Linked DNA regions of Homo sapiens: region 2 is linked to region 1. Evidence: fine-mapped expression QTL. A gene starts in region 1. The other region holds a variant in brackets. All regions are shown on one strand. Distances are between the middles of the regions.

Region 1 (8,796 bases):
TTCACCATGTTAGGCAGGATGGTCTCGATCTCCTGACCTCGTGATCTGCCTGCCTCGGCCTCCCAAAGTGCTGGGATTACAGGAGTGAGCCACGGTGCCCGGCCTACAAATTATTTTGTAAAGATAATCTTTTTCTAACTTTGCTATAAATCTAACAGTTTCATTCTTCCCTACTGTAAACACACACACACACACACACACATATTACACATATAAAATTTGCAATGCTTTTTTGCTAAAATTAGGTAGACTTTTTTTTTTTTTTTTGAGAAAGAGTCTTGCTCTGTCGCCCAGGCGGGAGTGCAGTGAAGTGATCTCAGCTGACTGCAAGCTCCGCCTCCCAGGTTCACGCCATTCTCCTGCCTCAGCCTCCCGTGTAGCTGGGGCTAAAGACACCCGCCACCGTGCCTGGCTAATTTTTTTGTATTTTTAGTAGAGACGGGGTTTCACCGTGTTAGCCAGGGTGGTCTCAATCTCCTGACCTCGTGATCCGCCCATCTCGGCCTCCCAAAGTGCTGGGATTACAGGCGTGAGCCACCACATCCGGCCGGTAGACTCTTAGGTACTTCAGGATTAATTTGTTATGATTTATTGAAAGACTGTAGCTCCTCAAACCTCTGTTTTCTATTGTCAGGATAAATCCTAGGAGACTTTAAAATGCACTAAATTTTTGAGTGATAAACAGTGTGGGGCCATGGGTCAGGGGTTCAAGTAATATCAGCTATAGGGAGAAGCTGATTGTTGTTTCTAAAATAAAATATAACCCATATGAAAATATTAATACAATTAAAAATTAGACATTGAAATTCCTGTCTTCTTAATCCTAATCTAATAAAAGCAGTAATTATGTCTGTAAATAGCAGGGTCTATATACTCAGTAAACAAACAATGCCCATCCCATTCTATTATTAGATAAAATGAGAGGCTTATCTCTAGTTTCTTAGTCTTTCCAGACAAACAGAAAGGAATTCCTACAGAGAGAGTGAAGTTAGTTGGTAATGCAACATTACCAGATAAGAAGATGAGTAAAGGCTGTTTTCCAGTTAGTGTCTTTTACAAAGGAGAATATAGGCCGGGCGCGGTGGCTCATGCCTGTAATCCCAGCAGTTTGGAAGGCCAAGGCGGGTGGATCACGAGTTCAGGAGATACGAGACCATCCTGGCTAACACGGTGAAACCCTGTCTCTCCTAAAAATACAAAAAAAAAAAAAAAAAAAAAAAAATTAGCCAGGCACGGTGGTGGGCGCCTGTAGTCCCAGCTATTCCGGGAGGCTGAGGCAGGAGAATGGCATGAACGCTGGAGGCGGAGCTTGCAGTAAGCCGAAATTGCACCACTACACTCCAGCCTGGGGGACAGAGTGAGATTCCGCCTCAAAACAAACAAACAAACAGGAGAATATAGACATGTTAGATTGATGGGGGAAAATATTAGAATTATAGAAAAGAAAATAAAAAAATAAAAAAGAAATTATTTCATCTTTTAAGATATATTAGAATATATAAATTTTACTCATGGTCACAACATACCTCTTTTTGCCCAAGTGATTGTGTATGTGTGTCTGTGTGTGTGTGCATGCATAGGGCTGTATCTAGTTTAAAGCACTGTAACGTCTGGATTCTCTTTTTTTTTTTGAGATGGAGTCTCGCTGTCTCCCAGGCTGGAGTGAAGTGGCGCGATCTCGGCTCACTGCAAGCTCCGCCTCCCGGGTTCACGCCATTCTCCTGCCTCAGCCTCCGGAGTAGCTGGGACTACAGGCGCCCTCTGCCACGCCCGGCTAATTTTTATGTTTTCGGATTTTTAGTGGAGACGGGGTTTCACCATGTTAGCCAGGATGGTCTCGATCTGGATTCTCTTTGAACGGTATAAAAGTCTGTGAGATGGCCGTGGGGAAACTCAGAGAAATTAAAGGTATAAAATGTAAGAAAGTGTCAAGGCTGAGATGACCATCCCAGCTAGTTCCTACTGCAGGTTTCTTTTATGACACCAATTTTGGCTGGTAAAGAAAAGATAATAACACCTAATTGGCTGCCTCACAACACTGCATAAACAAATCAAAAGAGCTAATGAATGGCAGGTTGTTTTGAAAGCTGTGGAAGGTGATCTAATCATAAAAGACTATAGTTATTTATTAACTATTATCGTCATCAAGGCTCCCTCTGTGTAGAAAAACAGAAGACTTTAGGAATGATATGGTAACTTTATATTTTGGAAATAACCTTTGTTTGTAGTAACATTACTGATCTACAACAATCTTTATAATTTTCTCATTTCCTCCCCCTGTATCAGTATCCTTCAGATTCTGCCAACCTCATAAATGCGTAAGGTTGTAAAATTCATAGTTTTTATTATCTAAGCCCACTCATTTCTAATGAGAGGAAAAAAGTTTCTACATGTTTGATGAATAATTGAAAGAGTTAAAAACAAGGATGATATTTTGAGTTAGAAGAATACCTTGATAACCTAACTCTGACCCAAACCTGAGTTCTCCAAACCTTCAATCCCATTCATTTAAATGTAATATTCATGGTGATTTTCAGGAATGAGGAGTAATTAACAGAGCATGTGATGAATCACCTCTGGCTTTACAACATTCCTAAAATGAAATGGAGAAGAAGCCCTAATGAAATGAGCCAGCTGATGAGTACTTCCAATTTTGGGGGTGCTCACTGAATCTTCTTTTTACTACTTTCTCCATTTGGAAAAGATATCAGTTTCAAACTTTTTATTCATCATTTCAGAAAAGGCTGGCATCTCTGAGGAGCTCTTTTCCAGTAAGAAGGAAACCAATGTCTTCAATGTTTCCTCATAGTAGAGATTCCTAAGACAGGCAATCATCTTTTGGTTCTTCTGTTCCACCCTAGCACCACTTCCACTCCTGGGAATATTCTCCATTTGGGCTAGGCTAGGGGTCACTAGAGCATAATACACAGTCATTGATTCCATTTTAAGGCATCAAACTCTTTTACCGTCAATAACAGAATATATGGTTGGGACACATTTCGTATGGTCTGACAGGGCAGATGAAAGATAAAAAATTAGTATTGATATGTGAATATTTAGAAGAGGCTTTTAGAGAAAGAGACAAGAAATCAATGCTGATTGAAACAGAGCAATGGTTTTCGTTAAGTTTTAACAGGTGATGTTTCGATTTGTTTAGGCATTATGGTTTAAAATACAATTAAAAGGGAAAAAGAGAACATATATCGTTATAGTTTAATTTCACCTCAAATTGTGTTGGGGTAGTTTTTCTATGCTGAGTAAATATAAATCTATTGGTGAAATCCACAGTCAACAGATGTTTACTTTTCTTGGTATCTTAGAAATTATCTAGTACAACCACGTTATTATAATTATGTAAAAATGCAAGACCAGCTATCATTAACTATCAAGCTTATCACATAAACTTGATAATTGTTCTAAGCACCTCTCTCTCTCACACACACACAAACACACACGCATTATATATATGATTTATCTCTAAACCTCTTAGCACTAGTACAATGTACGTGTTATTATTTTTATTTTACATATTAGGAAACTGAGGCTTAGAGAAAATAAGTGACTTGTCCAAGGCAACATGGCTAACAATTCAAGATTTGGACCCATTTCTAGCTTGCTTCAAAGCTGGGTTCATTTCTATCCCTACATAGTTGAAAAGACTACATAGAATAGAAACAGATTTCTGAAACCCTGTCTCATTCTCTTTCCATTAAGCTATGATGGACTTTGATTTTCTAACCTGTAACAATAATGGAATTTGAACTTGCTTTCCGTGGTCACTAATTTTACTATTCCATTGGAAAGGAGCCAAGCTACAACAATAGTGCAGACCTTGAAACCAATGATTTTATATATATATATATATGTGTGTGTATATATATGTATGTGTGTGTGTGTGTGTGTGTGTGTGTGTGTGTGTATATCTTTTTTTTTTTTGATGGAGTTTTGCTCTGTCGCTGAGGCTGGAGTGCAGTGGCGCCATCTCAACTCACACACCCTCCGCCTCCCGGGTTCAAGCAATTCCCCTGCCTCAGCCTCCAGAGTAGCTGGGACTACAGGTGCGTACCACCAAGCCCATCTAATTTTTGTATTTTAATAGAGATGGGGTTTCACCATCTTGGCCAGGATGGTCTCGATCTCCTGACCTCATGATCCGCCAGCCTTGGCCTCCCAAAGTGCTGGGATTACAGGCGTGATACACTGTGCCTGGCCCAGTGATTATATTTTTATAGGAAATAAATTATTTCATGAGAGAAAAAAGAAAGGACGTATTATCTCACTGTGATAAATCTCATAATATTGGCATACTCCCTAAGTTGGGCAACTTTGATCAGTTTTCTGGAACCATCATAAAAAGGCCTTTAATTGGATAAAGTCTCGAACTTTTCTTCTGTGGATGTGAATATCTTGAGAAGTACTGGAATGAAACAATTTGGCTCTGGTTTCAGTCATCTTCACATGTTTCTTCAGGTGCTTTCTTAAGCTATTAGGGCAAAATAAGCTGGTAGAAAAAAGGTGTTACTTGTAGGATGAAAGAAGCAACTAAAGAGAAGAAACTTTCTCTAGAAAAATGTTACATTTACACATTTATAATTGTTAACAACTTTTTTCTTCTTTTCTTTTTGGGAGACTAAATAATGGGATGATACAGGAAGAAATATGATTTAGAGAAAACTGATTGAGCCAAATTTTTCAAACGGTAATATGGGTAATCATAGGCTATGGAAAGTTAAACTGAGTCTCCAATGTTTATGATTATGATGTTTGGCTAGGATATAAAATAAGGCTTCAGAATATAAAATATCCTGCAGATTGAGAAGTTTTAAAAGTAGTTACATACAAGTTTTATTTTTCCAACGTTCCTGCCTTTTCTAATGTCTAAGGATGAAGCAGTGTACAGAGAGGAAAGAATGTTATATGTGTGGTCTGCTTGCAAGTGCTGGATGCCTCCTCTGCCTGCTCCAACTAAACTGTCTGCTTATGAGAAAGTCATTGCTCCTCTGAGTTCCTGCCTCCCTATATATTCAACATTAGAATTTTGCCAGGTTATCTTTTAGGGTCGTTCAACTCTAACATATATATGAGTCTGTGACACTGAACTCAGACACTTCAGAACAGGAACCCTGGATTTCTCTGGATGTGGAAATCTTTAAATCTATACCTGACTGGTAGGACAACCAATCTGTCTTCCTTTCCTCTCCTCTCCCACTTATGAAGGGAGTCCAGTCAGAAACATGTTTGTCTACGAGGTAGTATATCTGGTATTTCTGAGGAATTCGGTTATTATATAGGATTATAGAATATTCAACTTTGAGTAGGGTCTGTGGACTCCATCAATTGCGTTCTGGGGGAGGTACCATGAAAGAACATTCCTACTTTAGAAATAGATATTCTCTGTTCAAACCTGACACCCTGACAGGATCCTAAAGGATGGAAGCTAAAGTGGTGTGGTATATAAGTCCCATGACCTTGAACAACTGGTTTTATGTGGGTGTCACCAGTGCTTTATAAAAGTAAACTGCATCGCCCCGAGTTCAGTCATACTGCACCAGCTGAGCAATGCATGGAGTGGACCTGTAGGCGACTTGCATCGTCTTCAACATGAAGATAGCCACAGTGTCAGTGCTTCTGCCCTTGGCTCTTTGCCTCATACAAGGTGAGCAATTTGTGTGTAATCTAAGCCTCTTGCCACACATCTCAAAGCCCTGGGGAAGGGACTTTTCTCCCCCTACTCCTGCCAAAAAATGTTTACGTATGCATGTATAATCCTGAAATGTCTTGCCAGACACAGAGTTCTGAAGATTTATATATGTGGCTTTATAATTATGTTGTTATCTTTAGAAATGGCAAGTAGTTTGAGATAATCTGAATTTTCTAACCATGAGAAATTCTTCCATTAATTCTTTATTAATTCAGAAAACTGAATAGATTCTTCTTCATCTTCCTCTTGCTAAATGTATCAATTCATAATGCATATTCTTATATATGTAATAGACATTTAAAACTTAATTGTAAATAATATATGTATTTTAATGTTATAGGTATAAATGAAATATTTTTTAAAATTCAATCATCTGTTCTTATTTTAAAGCAGTGGTATCTTCTAGCTTATTTTAGTCTTGTGTTTTCAAATGCTAAATGGGTTGAAAGCATTTCTCCCAAAGAGTGAGGGACTTTTGTGGGAGCTGGAAGGTAGATTTTTATATTTGCTATTTAACCCTAAGAGAACACAAATTGCCTAGACTTACGTTGCTCTGAAACATTAAAATTTTTAAAAAGAGAAACTCATAGATAGTCTGAAATCATATACAAATAATGCCCATTTTCCTAAAATAGGTGTGTAGGTACAAAAGAGCCTATGTTAATGAGAGAGTATAATAGCCTGTGACCTTAATCTTACCTTCTGTCAGATCTCTAACTTTTGCAGCTGTAATAAGGAGGTAGAGCTGCCAGAATTCAGAAAATTAAATTTTATGTATATATCCTATAAATGTAATGCTATATTATAGTTTCAACTATAATATAGTTTCAAAATTATAATTGGTATAGTATTTTGTGTGTATGTTATATTGTAATTTTAAAAGGGAGGCTGGCATTTATTACTCCGAAAGGACCTTTTGAAGATAAGCTATTTTGATGGGGTTAGAATTCACATGAGTATTATTTTCCAAAGTAATTGTAACTTTCTGAGTGATTAGACCTTTGTGAGTATATATACTAATCTCCTGGTCCAGTGCCCTTCTTTTATTTGCCATGATAAATCTTAATGTGTTCAAAAACCATTTGCGGTTTTACAACATATTGTCATTAAAGCAATCAAGATGCTGCATTAAATGGATTATTTGTTTTGTTTATTAAATATTTTACATTTCCTTAACTTTGGTTTCTATATTTTCATCCCAGATGCTGCCAGTAAGAATGAAGATCAGGTTAGTCCTGCTTTTTCTGTTCATTGAATTCATTCCAAGATTCCCAAAGAAAAGTGGTTTGTGGCCAACACCTTCATGTTAATAATACAAACATATTATACTGGTAGGTACTAATAGCTTTTGTTAAAAACACAGAAACAGATTTTTATGAATCAGGACATGAGCCTCTCTCTCACACACACACACACACACACACACACTCAACATATTAATGATGATGGATGTCTGCAAGAGGCAATTTATCATGTTAAAGGAGCATTTTAAAATTTCATAAACAAAAAATAAATCAACTGGAAAACTACTATTGTTCCATTTAACATCTCAACAAGCCATGATACACCACATAGGAAGCTGAAATAAATTTTCTAGTAATCATTATGCAAAAGAGGGTGGTCTGTATCTTGTATATAGTCGGTGTATATAGTTCATGTAATGAATATTTATTGAGCATCTCTTAGATGTCAGACCCTGTTTGAGATGCTGGGGTTATTTTTAAGTAAACAAAATAGATGAAATTCCTGCCCTGAAAATTACGTTTTAGTGTAGGAAAACAGACAAATTAATAAGTAGCTTAGCAAAACATATGGTACGTTAAATAATGATAAATGCTAGGAGAAAAATAAATCAGGAGGCATAATAGGATCCCTGAGAATGGAGGTGGTATCCATTCTCATAAGGATAATCAGGGAAGTTCTCTCTGGACAGACAGTATTAGAATAGGAATCTGAAGGTCATAAGGGAATGAACCACGAAGGTATTTGCAGTTTACAGCAGGCCAGACAGAAGCACCTGTGAGCGCAGAGGCCCTGACGCAAGAAGGTGCTTTACCAACTCTTAAACCTCTTTTGTTTGATAAATTAAAAAATCATTTTCTACTAGAAGTTAAATTTTTTAATCTATTTGAAAGATAGGATGACCAATTACTCACACACACACATTTTATATATTTATATACACACACACTGCTATGCATGCTATTAATTCAGCACTTAAAGCACAATCTTAAATGTTTTGCTGAATATGTGGCAAAATTTGTTTTATCTCTGGCCACGAACATTAAAGGAATAAAAATGTGAAACAGCTATTCTTTACGTTGAAACTCTGAGAACCATGGTTAAAATACTCTCTTGCCGTATTTTGTTGCAATGATTTTTTTTAAAGAAACTTCTTACATGAGTGTTCTAGAGAATTTTATCATGTTCTCTACTATTTCATCTAAGTTTACTGATAGGGAGAGGTCCAGAAAGTTCAGTAGAGTAGAAAATAAGCTAGACATTTGGGAATCAGAGAGCATGCTCACTTGGAAGTTTTATACTGGGAAAAAAGAAGGATATTATATAAATATCATTGTGTATAAAACCATCATTTTCTTTTTCAGAGTCCGTGATGATGGTTGGTGATTTATGGCAGATACTGTGAATTTTACACTGCTATTTTTCATAGCATTAACCTCTATTTCACTGAAAAATATTTTAAAAACAAATTTAGTGACTTCTTATATTTGGTATTAAAGGCAAGAACACAAAGAAGTAATTATTTATTTGGAAGCCTTTCTAATCAGAGTTTTTGGATACTGTGTCAGAAATGAAAACTATTGATGTAGTCTTTTTTACGATGCTGTGATTTTGGTTATTTTCCAAGTTTAGTAGCTTGGGTTCCTTTCAGCATGATAAAAGCATGTTAAATGTCATAAACATGAACCTAAACAGCAGGGAAAAGCACTGCAGCAATCTGCAAGGATCTTAAGCATGCTTAAATTTGTCATCACCTAAGAGTCATTCTTCAGGCAAAAGCAAGCTGGTCAGTGCTCTAACACTGAGATAGGGCAATGGCAGCTCCTGGAGGGTTTTATTATAATATCTGGAGA
Region 2 (8,796 bases), 33 kb after region 1:
GTCTCTTGTAAGAGGATCATTTTCAGCAATTCGTAGCAGAGGATATGAAAGTGTTTAGCACAGGACTGAGGATACTGAAAATATGATTGAGTCATAAACTGACCAACTGTTTACTTTTCTTAACAGTTTAAAAGAAGCTGAAAATGCCAAGCGAGAGGGTGAAACTAGAATTCGACGAAATGCTGAAAAGGTAAAATGACTCACCAACGCAATTTTGTTCTTGTGGCCATATTTATTAACAAATGTATGCCTAAACCTTTGAGTAATGAAATAAAGTCATTGTCTTTTATTATTATATAGATATTTTTCTTAATATCAAAATTCCCCAAATTGACTATTCCTAGAATATTAATCATTAGATTCAGATTTAAAACAGCATTTCCTACCTAAGGCCCAAAATGTGCAGTTTCCACCTGTGTTTCTCCAGTCCTCTAGCCCCCAAAAGAAGATATAAGATAGAAAGTTTGTATAAACCAAATTCTGCTTAATTTCTAGCAGCCTTCTTTTTGGTTTAGTGTAAACCCATTTTACTCTGTATAAATTGTTTAAAATTGGCAATGAAATATAAATTAAACAGGAATAATTTTAAAATAGTGAGAGTGTTTTAAACACTATATCCACTAGTGCATTTTATGTGCAATTAAATTGACACAAGTTGAAGTTATTCACTTTGCCATTGTGATTATTCTGTTCAGAAAAACCTGCATTTATAAAGGTCTTGATTCTGCTTTAAAAAAAAAAAAAGACAAATTTTTAGAATGTGTTTTAAAAAAATCCTTAAAATTATTTTTTTGAAATTACTTGATAATTTAATTATTCAATCTAGTATAAAAAGTTTTGAATAAGCACTTTAGGTAATGCAGCCTGGATTTCTTAAATCACCTACTTTCAATGAGAGGGATAGCAGTTTCTTTGCTAAATGGCTAACCTTTTGTTGAGAAGTCAGAACGCCTGAGTTTTAGCCTTGGTTTTGCCATGCTCTGGGTGTGGGAGACTAAGTAAATAATCATCCTGGGCCTTAATTTTCTTGTCAGCAAAGTAAAGAGGTTGGATAATGACCTGAATTTTACCTTCCTGTTGGACTGTGATTCTACATCCTGCACACTTTTGTACTAATACAAGTGCACTCCTTTTTGCAGATCGTAGGGCTTATGTTTTCCTAAAGGAAGAAACAAGCCCACCTTTTGGTAGTCAAGAGCTAGCCCTTCAGTTCGTAATGCTTATTTAATGAAGCAAAGCTCTCAACCTAAATAGGGTATTGAAGGTTTACATTTAGGAAAACTAAGTATTCAGAACCATCTACAGTTTATGCAACACTTGCCAAGGATTGAAAAGGAATTCTTTTGTGGTGGTTGTTAAATTTCAGTCTAAAACTTTGGGTCATCCTGTGATAGTTAACATTTTATTACTTCATAAACACAGAGAGTTATTTTCCTTTGTTTTTCATTAGGTCTCTGTACTTCCCTCTTCCTCTCTGTGGCTAGGGTCATTGTTTTGGTGGGGTCACCGGGCATGATGGTGTGAATAGGACTGCTTTATTGTGATGGCTCAATATGTTCCCTATAATTAACTTGTCACTAGGTTGCAAACACAGTGTTTCTTCAGAATCTCCTTGGCTGAATCACAACTTATAAACTGAAATTATCATTGTTTCTTTTACGAGAATCATTGAGCATTAATTTTTTATACCATGCTATGATTATCAGGTGACTGTCTTCTGCTTCTCTATTTCTAGGTTGTTACAACCATGAGGTTTGGAGCACATCCATTGCTCCTCCAAAAATAAATATCTTCTTAATAGGAAGCAGTTAGGATTCTCTGTTAAAGCATCCCAATGGAATTTGAATTATTTTTTAAAAAACCAAAGAATGCTAGATCTAGAAAAGGTCCTACAGAGCATCTGTTCCAAAAACCTCATTGTAGAAGTAGTAACTGTGGTTCCAAAGGAGAAGGGACTTTGCTGTGGTCTCCCATTTGGGTGAGAGGGACAATCTAGTGGCCCAGGTCATTTGACTCCTAGCCATGCTCTTTATGCCCATGTTTTCTTGCCTGAAATTGAATGACGAAGGTCACACAGTTGAAAAGAAAGTTATAGACCAGGATTTTTTGTAGGTCATATTATAGTACTATATCTCACCACAAAATGTTTAATGACATAGAGATCCCCAAGCCTAGAGTAGCTTAGAGTATCATTTTTTTGGTAAAGTTTAGCCCTCCTCACATAGTAGAGTTTTCAAAACACAGAAAGTAGCCTGAAAGTATTGAACCAAAGCATCAGGAAATCTGAAAACAAATCTTTCTTGGATTTTTTTTGGTGGGGGGAAGTCACTCCTTTTTAGCTTTTCTAAATGAGTATCAGTCTTGATGATCTATCTGTCTAAGGTGAGGGTGAAAGGAAATTAGATCTACTCTCTCTCTACAATGTCAGAAATTATTATGGATAAAGAAGGCAGAATACACAAAAATTATCCACAGATCCATAGAGAAAATCAACTAAAGTAAGCATAACACTGTTGGATAACATCTTGTTTCTTTATACTTACAAACTTAGCTGGATTATTCTTGACTTGATCCATATTAAGTCACTTTTAGACATCTCATCTTCTCACAACTTTTTTTTCTTTTTTTTTTTGTGATTTGGCTGCTGCATTTTGTTGTGTTTGTGCTGGAACCTCATGAAAGATATCCCCTGACCCCTATTGATCTGAAAGTTAAAAAGAAATACCTAGTTTTAATCCAAGAAAACTCTTGGTCAGCCTTATTTTTTCCGAGGCTGTTTTTTATCTTTTAATAAACCTACCACATAACAGATACAAGTGCCAAGTAGTTGACAATATAATTACTGTTTCTTAGTAATCCTCATTAATATGTTGTATGTATTTGCCAACTTCTAGACCTGATGTTTTGTGGTAATAAATCTATTATAAAGTTTCCAGATTAAAACGTAGAAAAATGGTAAATAAAATTACTTGTTGGCTGGATGTGTTGGTTCATGCCTATAATTTCAACACTTTGGGAGGCCAAGGCAGGAAGATTACTTGAGCCAAGGAATTCAAGACCAGCCCGGGCAACATGATGAGATCCAGTCTCTACCAAAAAGGAAAAAATTTAGCCGGGTGTGGTGGTGCATGTCTGTAGTCCCATTTAGTTAGGAAGCTGAGGTGGAAGGATCTCTGAGCCTAGAGGTTAGAGGCTTCACTGAGCTATGATCATTCCCCTGCAATCCACCCTGCGCAATGCAGCAAAATCCTGTCTCAAAAAATAAAATATCCTGAAATGAAATGAAGTAAAATAAATATAATTGTCTTTTCAAAGGATTTTTGCAAGGAATATGAAAAACAAGTGAGAAATGGAAGGCTTTTTTGTACACGGGAGAGTGATCCAGTCCGTGGCCCTGACGGCAGGATGCATGGCAACAAATGTGCCCTGTGTGCTGAAATTTTGTGAGTATAGAAGTGGTTTTTTCAGAGTGATTCAAAGGGTGGGAGTGGAGATTGATTGGATTGATGAGTAAAAATAACTTTGAAAGGAAGCTTTGTTGTTGAGAACCATCTGAGCAGTTTTATGCCCTCCACAAATCATAATGCCACCTAGTGAGCAGGCACTACTGATGTTTGTCTATTTCTGAAGAGAAATGGATTCCATTTTCCAGTTGAAATATTGACTTACAGCATAGCACACTTCTTAACATTCCCCTGTGACTGTGACCTATGTGAAACTGTTTGTGAACTAATTCTAGTATAGAATGGGGGTAAAAGCAGGTACCACGACTTCGATTGTTTTTCTTCAGTAATTATCCCATGGTAACAGTGTTGATGCAACACTCTCAGATACTTCAGGTTTATACATTAATTGGATTACTCTTATCTTTTTATCTGGGACATATGACCTTGGGAGAAGGGCAAATCTCACAACATACAAATTATCACATTTATGAAAATGTCTTAGATGACATCTCATGACACTTTCGGCTTCTCTAGCTCTACAAGCCCTTTCCTGTGTCCTGTCCTATGCCAGTTCCTCCC[G/A]GTCTTGGCCAGATGATGTCCCCTCCTCTTGTAGATTACATTTCAGATTATCTTTCCTTGGACAAGAACTCCTAAAGTCCTTCCCTAATTGAAATTAAATTCTCATAATCCTTAGTAATTGTCTTTTCTAACCACCATCACAGTTGGCAATTATACAATTATTTCTCCAAGTTTTTGTTGACTTTCAGTCTTTTCTACCAGCCTCAAGAACTACAAGAGGGCAGGGTATGTGTTTGTATTATATACTCCTGCATGCCCAGGGCCCAGCCAACACTTGCCCAAAAAACCATAATTACTCACTAAATGAATGAATGAAGATATGAATGAAGATCTCCCACTCTCAAGAAGCTTAAGTTCAGTAGCAGAAATAAGCCATGGACATGTGCACATATTTATATATTGCAAAATAGAATAAAAACTGCTGTATAAGAGAAGACTATTCGATACAAAAACACAGCAATAGACATAGCGCTCATTTGTATTTGGGAACTGGAATGTCTTCTTCAAAAAGGTAGAATTTAAGCTGCAGAGTTTTAAATTTCTTTTAAGAAAGGGAGATGAGAAAAAAGATCATTTTAGTGGAAGTAAATGGTATAAAGGTGAAATTAAAGGGTCTTTTTGGGGATTTGAGGTGTTTTTAAAGTGTTTGTACTAAAACTCAGGACAACTTAGATATTTTTCCATCTATACCTAATGACTGTTTTGTAACATGAAGATCGGAAGCATCTCTACTCATTTATTTTACTTTTTCCAGCAAGCAGCGTTTTTCAGAGGAAAACAGTAAAACAGATCAAAATTTGGGAAAAGCTGAAGAAAAAACTAAAGTTAAAAGAGAAATTGTGGTGAGAATCAGTTTGATCAATCTAGTTACAACTTGTGTGTGTGTGGGGGGGTGCGTGTGTGAGAGAGTGCATATTACATAGTATGCACTTTCAATATTGTTTAATATTTTCCACACTACTAGTAGGTTTGCTGGAAACTAATTTCTAGTTATTATTTTGTGAAACTTAGATTAAAAAATTATGGCATTACAATTTCTAGCTGTATATGGAGGCAATTAATCAAGTCACATTAATAATGTAGTTTTGCACTCCTAAATGAAGGTGAAATATCAAAACATTGTCTGAATTCAAAGTGTGATATGTAGTCTTCGATGTGTGGTAGCTATTGTGAAGGTATTTACTTCAAAAACAATATCAATGTTGAATTTTAATGTGCTTCCTTTTAAATTATACTGTTCTCTGCTTTCTAAGTATCTTTTAACTAGTCACCTGTCTGTTTTTCTACTGCTACCCTCTTAGCTCAGACACTTAATAGTTTTCTTTTGCATTGACGTATTGGCATTGTACCTGGTTTGTACACTGTTGGTCTCCATCTTTCTCAATCTTCAAGATTTAATTCATCCTCCATGTTGTTTTCATATGTCATAGAATATGAGAACAAAAACTATGGTTCCACGAGTCAGCGATGCTATAAAATTCCAATGTTTGAAGATATTCTAGAGTATATTCAGACCATTTCACTTCTTATAGAAACCCTAACTTATTTCTTACAGACAGTTTTCCAGACTTCTATGATGTGCAGTCAACAGTTCTCCTAAGTAAGCCACTCCATCAGGCCACCCTCTGCCAGTATAACTCCATTTTCTTTCTTTCTTTCTTTTTTTCTTTTTCTTTTTCTTTTCTTTTCTTTTTTTTTTTAAGACAATTTCTTTCTTTCTTTTTTTTCTCTGTCACCCAGGCTGGAGTGTAGTGGTGGGATCATGGCTCACTGCAGCCTTGACTTCCCACTCTCAAGCTATCCTCACACCTCAGCTTTCCAAAGTGCTAAGATTACAGGCATGAGCCACTACACATAGCTTAAGCCTCATTTTGAACTGCTTTCTTCCCCTCAGTCCTAGGTTACCAAGTCCTTTTAATTTTGATATTCAAATATCTGTCAACTACTATTTTATCATTTATTTCCAATTTTTCTCCTTCCTTCCCTTTCTTCCTTTCCTTTCTCCTTTTTCTTTTTCTTCTCTCTATTCTTTTTTCTCTTTTCCTCCCTCTCTTTCTCTCTTTTTTAATAATATAATTACTGTTCTAACTTCAGTCCCTAGTTAATCAAATCCTCCACACATCTGGTTGATAACCTTTGTAAAACAAAGATTTGATTTTGCCATTTTCTGCTATAAACATTTATAATTTTCCCATTGCCTAAAAGTAATATCCAAATTCCTTTCAAAGTTTAGTGGTCTTTGATTTTCAAGGTCTCCTTTTGACCATTTCCCAAATATTATTCTCTTTATCCAACTAATTATTTAGCCACTATATTCATAAATATGTTAGATTACCTCAAAATAGCATGTTCTTTCACACCCCTGTGTGTTTGTCCATTTAATTCCTCTTGGATGGCCTTTTTCCACATTATGTTCCTGAATATATTCTCAAGATAGAACTTAGACATAAGTTCCCTGAACTTCCATGAATTATTCTTTTCATTGTACTTGTACACACTTAATTCAGACTAGTGTTATATTTCTTAGCTTTTTATATTGCAATTACTTATCTTTTCCATTTGACTGATAAAGAACATAAATATAAATAAATCATATTTCTATTTATATATTCCTAACTTAAGCATTCGTTGAAAATGTAAATGGATATTACAAGGAGAGAAATATCACAATTTTTGGATGGTCCTAAATCTTAAAAGTTTTATTTTTCATCCTTAATTTCTCTTTTTTCTTTGTAAAATAACATTTAACATTCATACATAGAAAACAGAACTATATCTCAACTTTTTCTTATTCATTATTCAGAAACTCTGCAGTCAATATCAAAATCAGGCAAAGAATGGAATACTTTTCTGTACCAGAGAAAATGACCCTATTCGTGGTCCAGATGGGAAAATGCATGGCAACTTGTGTTCCATGTGTCAAGCCTACTTGTGAGTATAGAGTTTTAGAATGTCAAAGAAAGAAGGGATCTTGCAGGTAATTTAATAGAAACAGCTTCTTTCATAGATGGGGAGACTGTGGCTCAAGACAGGGAAGTGAGTTGAAAACATTACATGGAAAATATCAGTGATAGAGCTGGGAGTAAGTACCTAGAGTTATTTGTTTTAAGACGCCTTGTTCCTCTGACACTCCCTCTTTTAGCACTGGAATGTCCTGACAAACATGAACTTGTACAAATAGTAGATGCCCCCTTACTCCTGAAACTTCACACGTTAGCCTGTTTTAGCAATTTATAGGTATCTCATCTTCCATGGGAGTTAAGAGTCCAAAGGTGATGCTTAATGTAGAAATGGAATAAAGTCAAAATTCCCATGAAACAACACTAAACTCCTATAAAATTACAATGGGTATTATTTTATGTAATGCAATATTTCTCAATAAGTTAGAATGGACAGTTTTCTTTCAAGATTTACGATAGCTCTTTATTTGGCTGAGCTCAAATTAAGTATTTAACTTATATTTAGAATCTATGGCTTTCTTTGTTTTGATTGACAACTACATATGGTTGAAATATCATCAGTTAACTGTACATACTGTGCAATTCCATTGTACAAAGCAAATTTAGGCTTATTTGTTTTATCAGTATATGGAAATTATTGTGGTTTTTTTTTTCACATCTTGTCCTTTAGATGAAACAGCTATGAGTAAGCAAAATATTTAAGTTTAAAGCAAAGCTAGGGTACACATGGTGTGATAGATAGACCATGGTCTTGAGGGAGGAGACCTTGGTTGTAGTCATATCCTGAGATGTAGCAAAGACCCCCTCTACCTCTCATCTTCTCTGATTAACAAGGGGATGAGTAGATGTGCTTTGTTAAGGCCACTTTCAGCCTTCAGGTTATGCCACCATGATTTTAGTTTTGGTGCCTCTGTTATGAACATTGATCATGCTCCTTTTCTTACTATGGGCAAGAAAACTAATTTACAGAAAGCAAGTATCCCAGATCCACTATTGCCGTCTTTCTTTCAACATTAAACAGACATTATGAAGAAATCATAGCACCATACTATCCTGGAGGATATTTTGTTGCTTCTCATTGATATGCAGTGATAAAGGGACAAAATTGTTCCACTCTAAGGAGGGAGAACAGTTAACAGTGCAAGGATGTGGAGAAATCATGGCATGTGTTTGTTCCTAATGGATCTGCTTCTTTTTCCCTCTTATTCAGCCAAGCAGAAAATGAAGAAAAGAAAAAGGCTGAAGCACGAGCTAGAAACAAAAGAGAATCTGGAAAAGCAACCTCATATGCAGTGAGTGGAATCCATCCAATAAATCCTATTTGGTGCTATAATTTGAACAAATTTTAAGAGCCTAAAGGGTGAGATTTTGCCCTGCAGAAATCCCCAGAATATCTTAACTCTTCAATCTGGGGATGGTATTGAGATGAATTATATGGGAAGATTGATCCATTCTTGCTGATTAAAAACTAACTCTGCAAAAAAAAAAAAAAAAAATTGTTTAAAAGCTGAAAAACTGAGTTCTACTTCTAGTTTTATCACTTATAGACTGTTAGCTTTTGCTAACTACTTTCCAGAGAAATTCTACATGTATGCTTTCTACATATGAGTTTCTGATATTTCACATCTAATTTGAGATAAAAAATACCTTGATTCCCCCACCAACGCATGATTTTTATCCCTGAAATATTACAATATTAGTTTCCAAAGCCTTAGCTCAGTTATCATCACCAATGGTTTTGATGATAAAAGTCTCCTAATTTTCACTCTGGATTTTATCCTTTCCCTTGCCCAACCAGTCTCCCTAACATA

Which allele goes with the higher level. Positions count from the first base shown, and alleles are read on the strand shown. Sizes are in standard deviations (SD) of each study's normalised expression.
For the expression in ileum of the gene that starts at base 5,537 in region 1, A is the low allele of the variant in region 2 and G is the other (large effect, 0.86 SD a copy in GTEx).

What was found. PIP is the estimated chance that this variant, and not a neighbour inherited with it, causes the effect.
Region 2: its variant is fine-mapped to the expression of SPINK5 in ileum (GTEx, PIP 0.97).

What each region holds. Positions count from the first base shown.
Region 1 is chr5:148,058,444-148,067,239 of GRCh38, forward strand. SPINK5 (serine peptidase inhibitor Kazal type 5) reads left to right here and starts at 5,537. Exons shown (of 33, transcript NM_006846.4): 1 at 5,537-5,656; 2 at 6,904-6,929. The coding sequence starts at 5,602.
Region 2 is chr5:148,091,039-148,099,834 of GRCh38, forward strand. SPINK5 (serine peptidase inhibitor Kazal type 5) reads left to right here. Exons shown (of 33, transcript NM_006846.4): 8 at 127-190; 9 at 3,316-3,443; 10 at 4,780-4,867; 11 at 6,829-6,956; 12 at 8,196-8,277. It overlaps LOC124901185 (a long non-coding RNA gene), which reads right to left and starts at 2,704. Exons shown (of 3, transcript XR_007059139.1): 1 at 2,544-2,704. The variant G/A (reference allele first, on the strand shown) is at 4,026.